2 separate regions of the Homo sapiens genome follow, and region 2 is linked to region 1. Evidence: fine-mapped expression QTL. A gene starts in region 1. The other region holds a variant in brackets. All regions are shown on one strand. Distances are from middle to middle. Region 1 holds the start of ZBTB44-DT (ZBTB44 divergent transcript). Region 2 overlaps ADAMTS8 (ADAM metallopeptidase with thrombospondin type 1 motif 8).

The links. PIP is the estimated chance that this variant, and not a neighbour inherited with it, causes the effect. A credible set is the group of variants that fine-mapping cannot tell apart.
Region 2: its variant is the best candidate, but not a certain one, in a credible set for the expression of ZBTB44-DT in cerebellum (GTEx, PIP 0.68).

Annotation. Positions count from the first base shown.
Region 1 is chr11:130,312,891-130,317,275 of GRCh38, forward strand. It overlaps ZBTB44-DT (ZBTB44 divergent transcript), which reads left to right and starts at 2,103. Exons shown (of 7, transcript NR_148980.1): 1 at 2,103-2,225. ZBTB44 (zinc finger and BTB domain containing 44) reads right to left here and starts at 2,027. Exons shown (of 8, transcript NM_001301098.2): 1 at 1,485-2,027. RefSeq lists enhancers at 1,181-1,230, 2,391-2,490, 2,661-2,760 and silencers at 1,321-2,150, 3,061-3,120.
Region 2 is chr11:130,407,129-130,411,454 of GRCh38, forward strand. It overlaps ADAMTS8 (ADAM metallopeptidase with thrombospondin type 1 motif 8), which reads right to left. Exons shown (of 9, transcript NM_007037.6): 6 at 4,289-4,326; 7 at 1,640-1,812; 8 at 1,336-1,511. Among named protein-coding and RNA genes, the nearest start is that of ADAMTS8, 19 kb to the right of the region's middle. The variant T/G (reference allele first, on the strand shown) is at 1,901.

The DNA.
Region 1 (4,385 bases):
ATTTGAGGATTACAGTGTTTGCAGCTTACTTTCAAATAATTACACACATACAGAGAAAGACAGGAAACAATATGGCAAAAATGCTAATCACTGAGTTGGTTATTCATTGCATTGATTAGCATTTTTATTCATTGCATGAATAACCGATCACAATTGTATAGAACGAACCTCTATACGACTAAAATTTTTCATAACAAAGTTAATAAAATTGTACTTCTATTGAGAAGTACGGTAGAAAGTACACGAAAGTACATCTATACTGGAATTATATTTGGGTTGAAATCTAAACTATCTTACTAGTTGTGTGCCCTAAGGCAAGTTGTAATTCTTCGTATCACTAAGTTTGTCACTTCTATAAAATTCAAGTAATAATATCTGCATCATTAGGTTGTTCTGAGAATTAAATAATTACAAATGCAAAAATGCCAAGCAGTACTGCACAAAATGAATAATCTGGTTTTCATAATTAATCAGTACATTACTAATAATCCTAAAATACAAAACTAAAGGACTACGTTCATTATATTCACATTCTATGATAAGGGGAAACTACATTAGGTAAAATTATTATTAATCCACTGACAGTCCAAGTGAAGTAATGGGGGAAATGAAGATTTATACAGTATTTTTTAAACCCAAGAATTCCAACTGAACACCTAGAGAAAAGGAAATCAAAATCGTGCAGCTTGCTTCCGGTATCAGCCGATCTCCAAATAAAGCATTAAGAAAATAAGTGGAAGTTATGGAGAATTTCTTCCTGACTTCAAGAGATTATCTACTTACACGCTGAAAAAGAAATTAAGTTTTTGTCTTCATTTTTGTAAGTTCCAAAAAAAAGCACACAATTACGGGGTTTTATTGTAAATTCTGCTTGGATTCATAGAACTCACATGGACGCAATTTCCTTTTAATCAGTTCTAACGTACCTGTCATTTCTCGAGGTAACCCCTTTTTCTGATTAGGCCAGCAATAAAACGACTAGATGCAGAGTGATCCTCAGGAAGGAAAGGAAAAGAGGTGTGTGTGTGTGTGTATGTGTGTGTGTGTTTGTGTGTGTGTATATATATATATATATATTTTTTTAAAGAAGTGCCATCTTTTTCTTTCTGTACCAGAGAAAAAGCAGAAGGGGAAAGGAGGAAAAAAAACAGGTCTGAGCCTCCCGGGTTCGACCAGGTGAGAGGTGGCAACACTCCGGCCGCTCCGGGTTAGGGTGTTGGGCAAATGGGCGTGCAAAGGACGGGCAGCTCCCTGGAAGGTCGGGGTAACTGCTCCGGGACCGCGGGGCCCAAGGCCGGTCTCCTCCCAGAAGGATTAAATGCCACCGAGGGGATCCCGTGGGGTGTCTCCCGGCGCGGACTAGGCTGACAGACCCGGCTCTCCGCTCCCTTCGGCGCCAGGTGGGGGCCACGCGGTGTCAGCCACGGGCAGCGTGCAGGGGCCGTCCCCCGCGCGACCGGAGCCCGCCCTCCCCTCCCCGTTACCTGCGGGCGGCGGCGCCGGGCCCGGAGGCCTGCTGCTCCTCCTCCTTCTCCCGCCAGGCTGGGGCGGCGAGGCGGCGGCGGCGGCGGCCCGGGGGGAGGGGGCGGAGCGCGGCTCGCTGCCTCTCTCCTCCCCCGGGAGGCTCAGGGGCCCCTATCTCGGGCCGCCGCGCCTAGGCCCGTGAGCAGCCTGTGGTGGGGCATGGCGGCACAGCCACCGGCGTGCCCGCGAGTGGGAGTGCGAGGAGGCGGGGAGGGAAGCACCCCCAGCGCTCGGAGGGGCCAGAGGGGAGGAGCGAGGGGGCCCGGGAGCCGCGCGCTGGCGACCGTTGGGGACGGTTGGCCGAGGGCAGGCGGTTGTTTGGGGAGCGCGGCGACGGCTCGCGTGTTCCCAGCGGGGCGGGGTGGGGAAGGGGAAGGGGACTGAGGGGAGGGGAGGGGGAGGTTGGGAGGGAGCCGCCGCCGCGCGCGTGCGGCCGGCGCCGCCGCCGTTGCCGCTCCGCTCACTCCAGCCTGTTTGGGGGCACTTTGTTTGTGTCCCACAATGCTCTGCGCCGGCGGCCTGGCTGGGGAAGGGGAGGAGAAGGGGGCGGGGCGGAGCGCGCTCGGGGGCGGGGCTCGGGGCGGGGAAGGAAACGTGATGATTGCGCAAGCGCAGAAAATGGGCCCTCTTGGCCGTCGGGACTTGTACTGTTGGTGACTCCGTCTCCTTAGACGGTGGAGCCTGCGTGACCCAGAAAGGCCGTGAGTCTTGACACTGTATTTTTGCATATGTGCGCACATGTGCCGATTTACATTCACATGCCCCATAAGCCCTGTCCCATTTGTCCTTCCTCTAAGCCGTCCTCTTACCCAGTTCCCCTCTCACACCTGAGAAGCATTTCTCCGCAGGAGTCACATTTATAGCATTATTTTTTTCTTCGAACTAAAAACATAACTCCTATTTTCTCGGGTAGTTTTTGTAGGGAGGTCGAAATAGAAACACTTCAGCCCCTCTTCGGCGAGGGAGGTTAGTTGGTAAGGTGCCCATTGTTCACCCATGGAAACAGGCCTGCCAAGGGCCGCCCCGCAGACAGGTGAGCCCGCGCCCCCGTCCTGGGCGGACTGCGACATGCGGCGGGTGTCTGGATTGCGTGGCTCCTCGGGCCTCCTCGCAGTGCTTGCTCTCTTCCGTTCTAGCACTTGCCTCGGTGACCTGGCAGGACGTGCGGTTCTTGAGATGAGTGGAGAAACGGACTCCCAGGTCCCTCTCGTTCTTCCAACACAGGGACAGCTAGAGCTGCTCCAAAAATATACCCTACTTCTTCCACAACCGTGAATCTGTCATTTTTACTGCACCATCACTTACTTCCTGGCCTTCCCGGAGGAAGTGTGCGGGCCTCCCCGAAGTAACCGGTACCGCCCGGGGGGTTTTGAAGTTCTTGGTCAACTGCAAAATCAATCAACCTAGTTAACTCCTAGGGCCCTAAGTCTTGGCTTCCCCTGGCCAGGCGGGCGAGCGCTCTCCACACCGCCCCCGGAGGTCATAGGGGTTCCCGGGACTGCAGGCGGCAGCGCCCCAGGTGCCTGGGGGCGGGCGGGGTGCGGGCAGGTGCTCCTTGGGCGCTTTCTGTTTTCCCACGCCTCCAGTTTGCAAACCGAAAGACTTCTTTCCAGAGGGTTTTGTGCAAGGTGGGTGGACGTCCCGCTGAAGTAGAGTGGATTTTCCTTTTGAAACACTTGGCAACATCTCACATTAATTCACTCTGAGAGACAAGCAGCCAAGCACCTGAACACCCTGACACTTGCAATCTTCTTTAGGAATAAAGGCAATAAAAACAACTTCTGTTTTTATAGTCCTTCGCAGTTTCCAACAAGTTTTCAAGCATGTATAATGTTATCTAATCCTTACGGCAACTGTAATTCACAGGTTTTATCACAGGTTTCTATTATTATTCCCACTATCATTCTTATTATTCCCATTTCAGAGATGAGAAAAATCAGAAAGATGCGAACTAGGCCCAGAAACTTTTGCACTAAGTTTTGAAGAGGGGAAGGGAAAGAAGGCGGAATGCTTACCTGGGAGAGGACTGGCGGCCACAGAGCAGGGCTCAGGAAAGGGCATGAGCTGGGGCCCTGGTGAGGAATGTGTGAGAATGTATGTAGGTGGTAAGCAACTGGACAAGAATCAGGGTGGAAATGAAGTAGTCAAATCCTATCTACCTCTCCTAGTGCCTTTAACAGGATAGTCAATAAAAGACCATGAGGCAAGTCTTTTCTAAGTGCTTCTCCAGGGGCTGTGGTGGCAGCTCCTCAACTACTACACTGACACAAAAATTTGCTTTCCTTTGTAGTACAACTTGAAGTCAGGTAGAGGAATGCCTCTAGCTTTGTTATTTTTGCTCAGAATTGCCCTAGCTTTTCAGGGTCTTTTGTGGTTCCATACAAATTTTAGGATTTTTTTTTCTAGTTCTGTGATGAGTGTCATTGATATTTTGGTAGGGATTGTACTGTACCTGTAGGTGGCTTTGGGTAGTGTGGATATTTTAACAATATTAATTCTTTCAATTCATGAGCGTGAGATATCTTTCCTTTTTTTTTTTTTTTTTTTTTTGTTCTCTTCATTTTCTTTCATCAATGTGTACACTTTTCCGGGTAGAGATTTTTCACTTCCTTGCTTACATTTATTGCTAGGTATTTTATTTTGCTTTTTTGTAGCTATTGTGAATGAGATTGTTTTCTTGATTTCTTTTTCAGATTGATGGCTGTTAGCATATAGAAAATCAACTGTGCTGGGTGTGGTGGCTCACGCCTGTAATCCCAACACTTTGGGAGTCCAAGGCAGGCAGATCACGAGGTCAGGAGTTCAAGACCAGCCTGGCCAACATAGTGAAACCCCATCTCTACTAAAAATACAAAAAAGTT
Region 2 (4,326 bases), 94 kb after region 1:
AGGCCAAGGCGGGCGGATCACTTGATGCCAGGAGTTCAAGACCAGCCTGGCCAACATGACGAAACCCAGTCTCTACTAAAAATACAAAAATTAGCTGGGTGTGGTGGTGCATGCCTGTAATCCCAGCTACCTGGGAAGCTGAGGCAGGAGAATTGCTTGAACCTGGGAAGCAGGTTGCAGTGAGCCAAGATCGTGCCACCGCACTCCAGCCTAGGCAACAGAGTGAGACTCTGTCTCAAAATAATAAAAATAAATTAAAAAAAATGAAAACAGTCCCAAGTTGCCTGCTGTAGGCTGATTCTGTTCTCTCAGACTGGTGAGATGAGAGATGTAGAGACAGACAGACAGACAGACAGACACACACACACACACAGAATGGGGCAGGGTTTGCGAGCTTCACTAGGTAGAATACAATACAGTGAACACTTCTCAAAAACTCTGAGACCGTGAGTGGGGGAAGTGGCTGGACAGGTGGATGCTCACATAAGCCCTAGGACACATTGATGTACTGGAGGCAGACAGGCAGAGTGTGGCCCATATAAAACACCCGAACTTGCCCTTACTCTGCAGGAAGTACATGGAATGGGAGACAAAAGTCATCCAGGACTTAGGAAAACTAGGTTCTCTTCTGGCTGTCATTAACCATCAATGTGACCTTAGAAAAGTCATTTAATCTTTCTGTGCCTTAATTTCTTCCTCTGCAAAATGAGGAATAGTATTGGCCTTGCTCACCTCATGGACTTATTTTACAAATCAAATGAGACCATGGAAATGAAAGCGCTTTGGAAAATCCTTGGAGTTTTATGAATGTGGGGCATTAGGATGAGAAAAAAGTGTCTGGAGTTCTCAGATTCATGAAAGCCCTGAGGCTGCCAGGGCCCCTTTTTGGTAACCCCCTTCTCTGAAGATCCATCTGCAGAAAGGACAGGGGCTTGCCAGGCTTAGGGTGAGACGTCCTTCCCAAAACAGGCCTGGGAGAGCTGTTTTCTGGCAGAGGTCCAGGTTACTCAGTGTGGCTCGATTGACTCAGAGATGACAGCTCCCTATCCACATGGCCTCCAGCCCTCGTAAAAGTCACGGCTGCCCTGTGTTCTATCTTTTCTATGAGCTCGACACTGCCAAGTGCACATCCCATCTCAGGAAATCCTTACAACGACTCTGAGATAGAGATACTGCTGACATTTTACAAAGAAACTGAAGCTCGGAGAGTTTAAATAACTTGCCCAACCCTCACAGCTATTAAGTAGCAGCCACAGTTCAATTTGGGCCTAGCAGAGTGCAAAGCCCATTATGCTCTTCTACCAAGCAAGGTACAGAACTTCTGGGGAGACTCACTTGGTGGGGGTGAGGGACCCGGAGACCTTCCTGCAGGAGTTGCCTTTGCCCCCACACACCCCGCATTTGTCCAGCTTCCGAGGCGAGTCCACCACATGGTCACAGCCGGCCTTGACACACTGGCCACGGACACAGATGGCCAGTGTTTCTGGCCCACACAGGGTGCCATCAATCACCTGCAACGGGGAAAGGGAAGGTGAGGGAGGGCGTGTTGAGCACAGAAGCAGCCTGCCGGGGGGCGGGGGTGTGGGGACAGGCGACCTTCCTCCCCATCTCTGGATCTGAGTCCCAGGGTGATTCTCACCTTGGCCTCGAACACTTTGAACTCGCTCCTCCCCCGGGCTCGGCAGAACAACTTGCAGCGGTCCCGGGGGGACACCCCAGCATACTTGGGGACCCACTGCAGGAGATTCCCGTCCATGTCAGTGTAATTGTAGGCATTATACTTCTCACACTGCTGCTCCCTGAAGCTTTTCCCTAGAAAGAGGAAGAAACGGCATGGAGGTGACACCCATGCGGAAGCAGGAGCATCCGGTGGAGAAATCCCGAATTTACAGCACTTTTC[T/G]TCTTTCTTTTGGTTTTGAACTCAACCCAGGCGCCCAGGGCCAGTGTCTTCTGGGCACAACATTCCTAGACGCATGTGTGACCCTTACTCAAAAGGGCAAGGAAAGGAGCCTCCAGCCGCATGCTGGGCTTTCTAGGATAAATGCCCTTTCCATTAGGGAAAGAGACTCATTGTACTCTACAGGTGAATAAACGCAGGGAGCAACAGGGAACAATTCAGTAAGCTTGGAAGGCACAGAATGGCATGTGGAGCTATATTCTCAGGACACTACTAATTGTGCAGTATCGATTTCCTCAGTGACACCGGACATGAATCCAAAGACTCCTAAATCTACATGTCTAGCTCTGATCTTGCCCCTACACCCACATTCCGTAATTCTGGGTGTCCCTGGGGAGCTCCGTTTGTATGTACTGTGATTACCTCCAACTCAGCATGGCCAAGCTCCCGATGGTCCTTCCACGAACTGTCTTGACTTTCATTTGCTGATCTTACCATGCCCAAGTCTGAGACTGGTATCCTGGTATCTCCCGAACATTTGAGCATCTCTATCTGCTATTTCCAAACTGTCACAAAGACCCACACTATATTCAGGACAATCTGTGATTTAAAACGATGGCATCCCACTCTCACCACCACAAGCCCAGGCCTGCTGGCTTCATGGGGACCTGTGCCTGCCTCCTCTCCATCCTGCCACGTGCTGCTGCCAGACCAACCCATCTGAAGTTAGATGTGGGTTGCTTTCCACCCCCAAATCCTAAAATTAAAGCTGTTCTTCCTGCCAAGGTTCCCTGCCCAAACTGTGCATCTGAATGCCTGGGGAGACTTTGCCAAGGCAGATGCCATACTCCACGCCTGAGACTCTGAGTCAGTGCAGCTGAGGGGGTCTGGGCTGTGTCTGCAGGAGCTTCCAGGTGACTTAATGGGACAGGTGGCACAGATAACTCCCAGATACTGTGTCAGCCTTCAAGGACCTCTGTGGTCTGGCCTTGACATAGTGGTGTGCTTTGCTTGATTCCACCTAAGTGAATGAGGGCCCTTCTCACACCTTTCCACCACCCTGGCAGGTCCCCTCACACCTCACCCATCTCAGTCCTCCAGACTCTGCTCAGTCCTAACTCCTTTCAAAGCTTCCGCTCACCCAGCCTTTCCTTTCTCCGAGCGCCTCACCAACCTAGGGTCTGTGACTCATCCATTGAAATGTAATGGCTGTGTTAAAGGGATTTGGGTCTCTAATTGGACTACAAGCTCCTTAGGGACAGAGACCATGCCTTTTACATTTTCATACATTTTTATAGTTCTAGACACACAAAAAATACTAAAAAATACTCGACAGTAATGGCAGACTTTGGTGCATCTGACATCATGGCATCACTTTTCGTCCACACCTACCTTGCACCCTATATTCATTCTCATCCTCCCCCTTTCCCAGCAACGTCTCACCCTGTATGCCAGGCAAACTCTCATACAATTCCAGGGCAAAGTTTCTAGAGCCTCAAACCATTGTGGATCCTTCTTGTCTTGTGAAACCGCAAAGCCTACAGATTCTCCTGAGACATCAACCCAATGCCAGTGTCTTTTCCCGTGGTTGAATCTCTCCTAAGGCTCTGCCTGATTTTTCTTGCCTGCCAATCCTTCCTGGAGCTGCACACTGGGCAGTTGGATGGGATGGTGGGGAAAAACCTTGTAATGATTTCCCTCTCACGAGTTTGCTGCTGCCCCTTTACTGCCTCTAAGTTAATGTTCATGGTTTCCAGCAGGTACTGGGGATAGGAATATGCCAAGGGGAGGGAGAGGTAGTATTCCTTCCTGGGAAGATTCTGTCAAACAGTTGCCATGTTCCCAAGGGAAGATGGGCAACTCTTCTCAGAAGGAATGTGAACAGGAATCAGATTCAGAAATCCTCCCTCTGCCCTGGGCTGAATTTTGGCTAGAAAGACCTTGGAGGTTTGGCTCTGACACTTGCTTTGGAAAATGCTTCCATTCTGCACACAGATGAGGGTTCCTATGCCTCCAGGAGGATTAGTTTCCTAGACACCAGCCCCTCTGCAGAGGCTCCTCCCCAATAAGTTTGGTTGGGAGTGATGTCCTCCTCTCCACATCTTGGAAGATGAGCGTAATTTCTCTCCTTGACTTTGCCAGGCTCTCTGAACACTATGAGAGCTGTCCCGGGTCCCTGAGAGCTGCCCCTGGGATTGGAACCTTGCAGAGCCCATTTAGGTGGAGATCACAGGCAAAACTCTACATCCCAGGAGACCCAATTTACTCCCCTCTGGGAGTAACTCTATATCCCGGGACACCCACTTCACTCCCACTTTACACATCCTCTGGGGATGCGTCATAGCAATGATAGTAGCTGCTCTGGCAGGGGCGGCCCTGAGTGGTAATTACCGTCAGGGGGGCATTCCTCCGTGTGGCATGACTGGTAC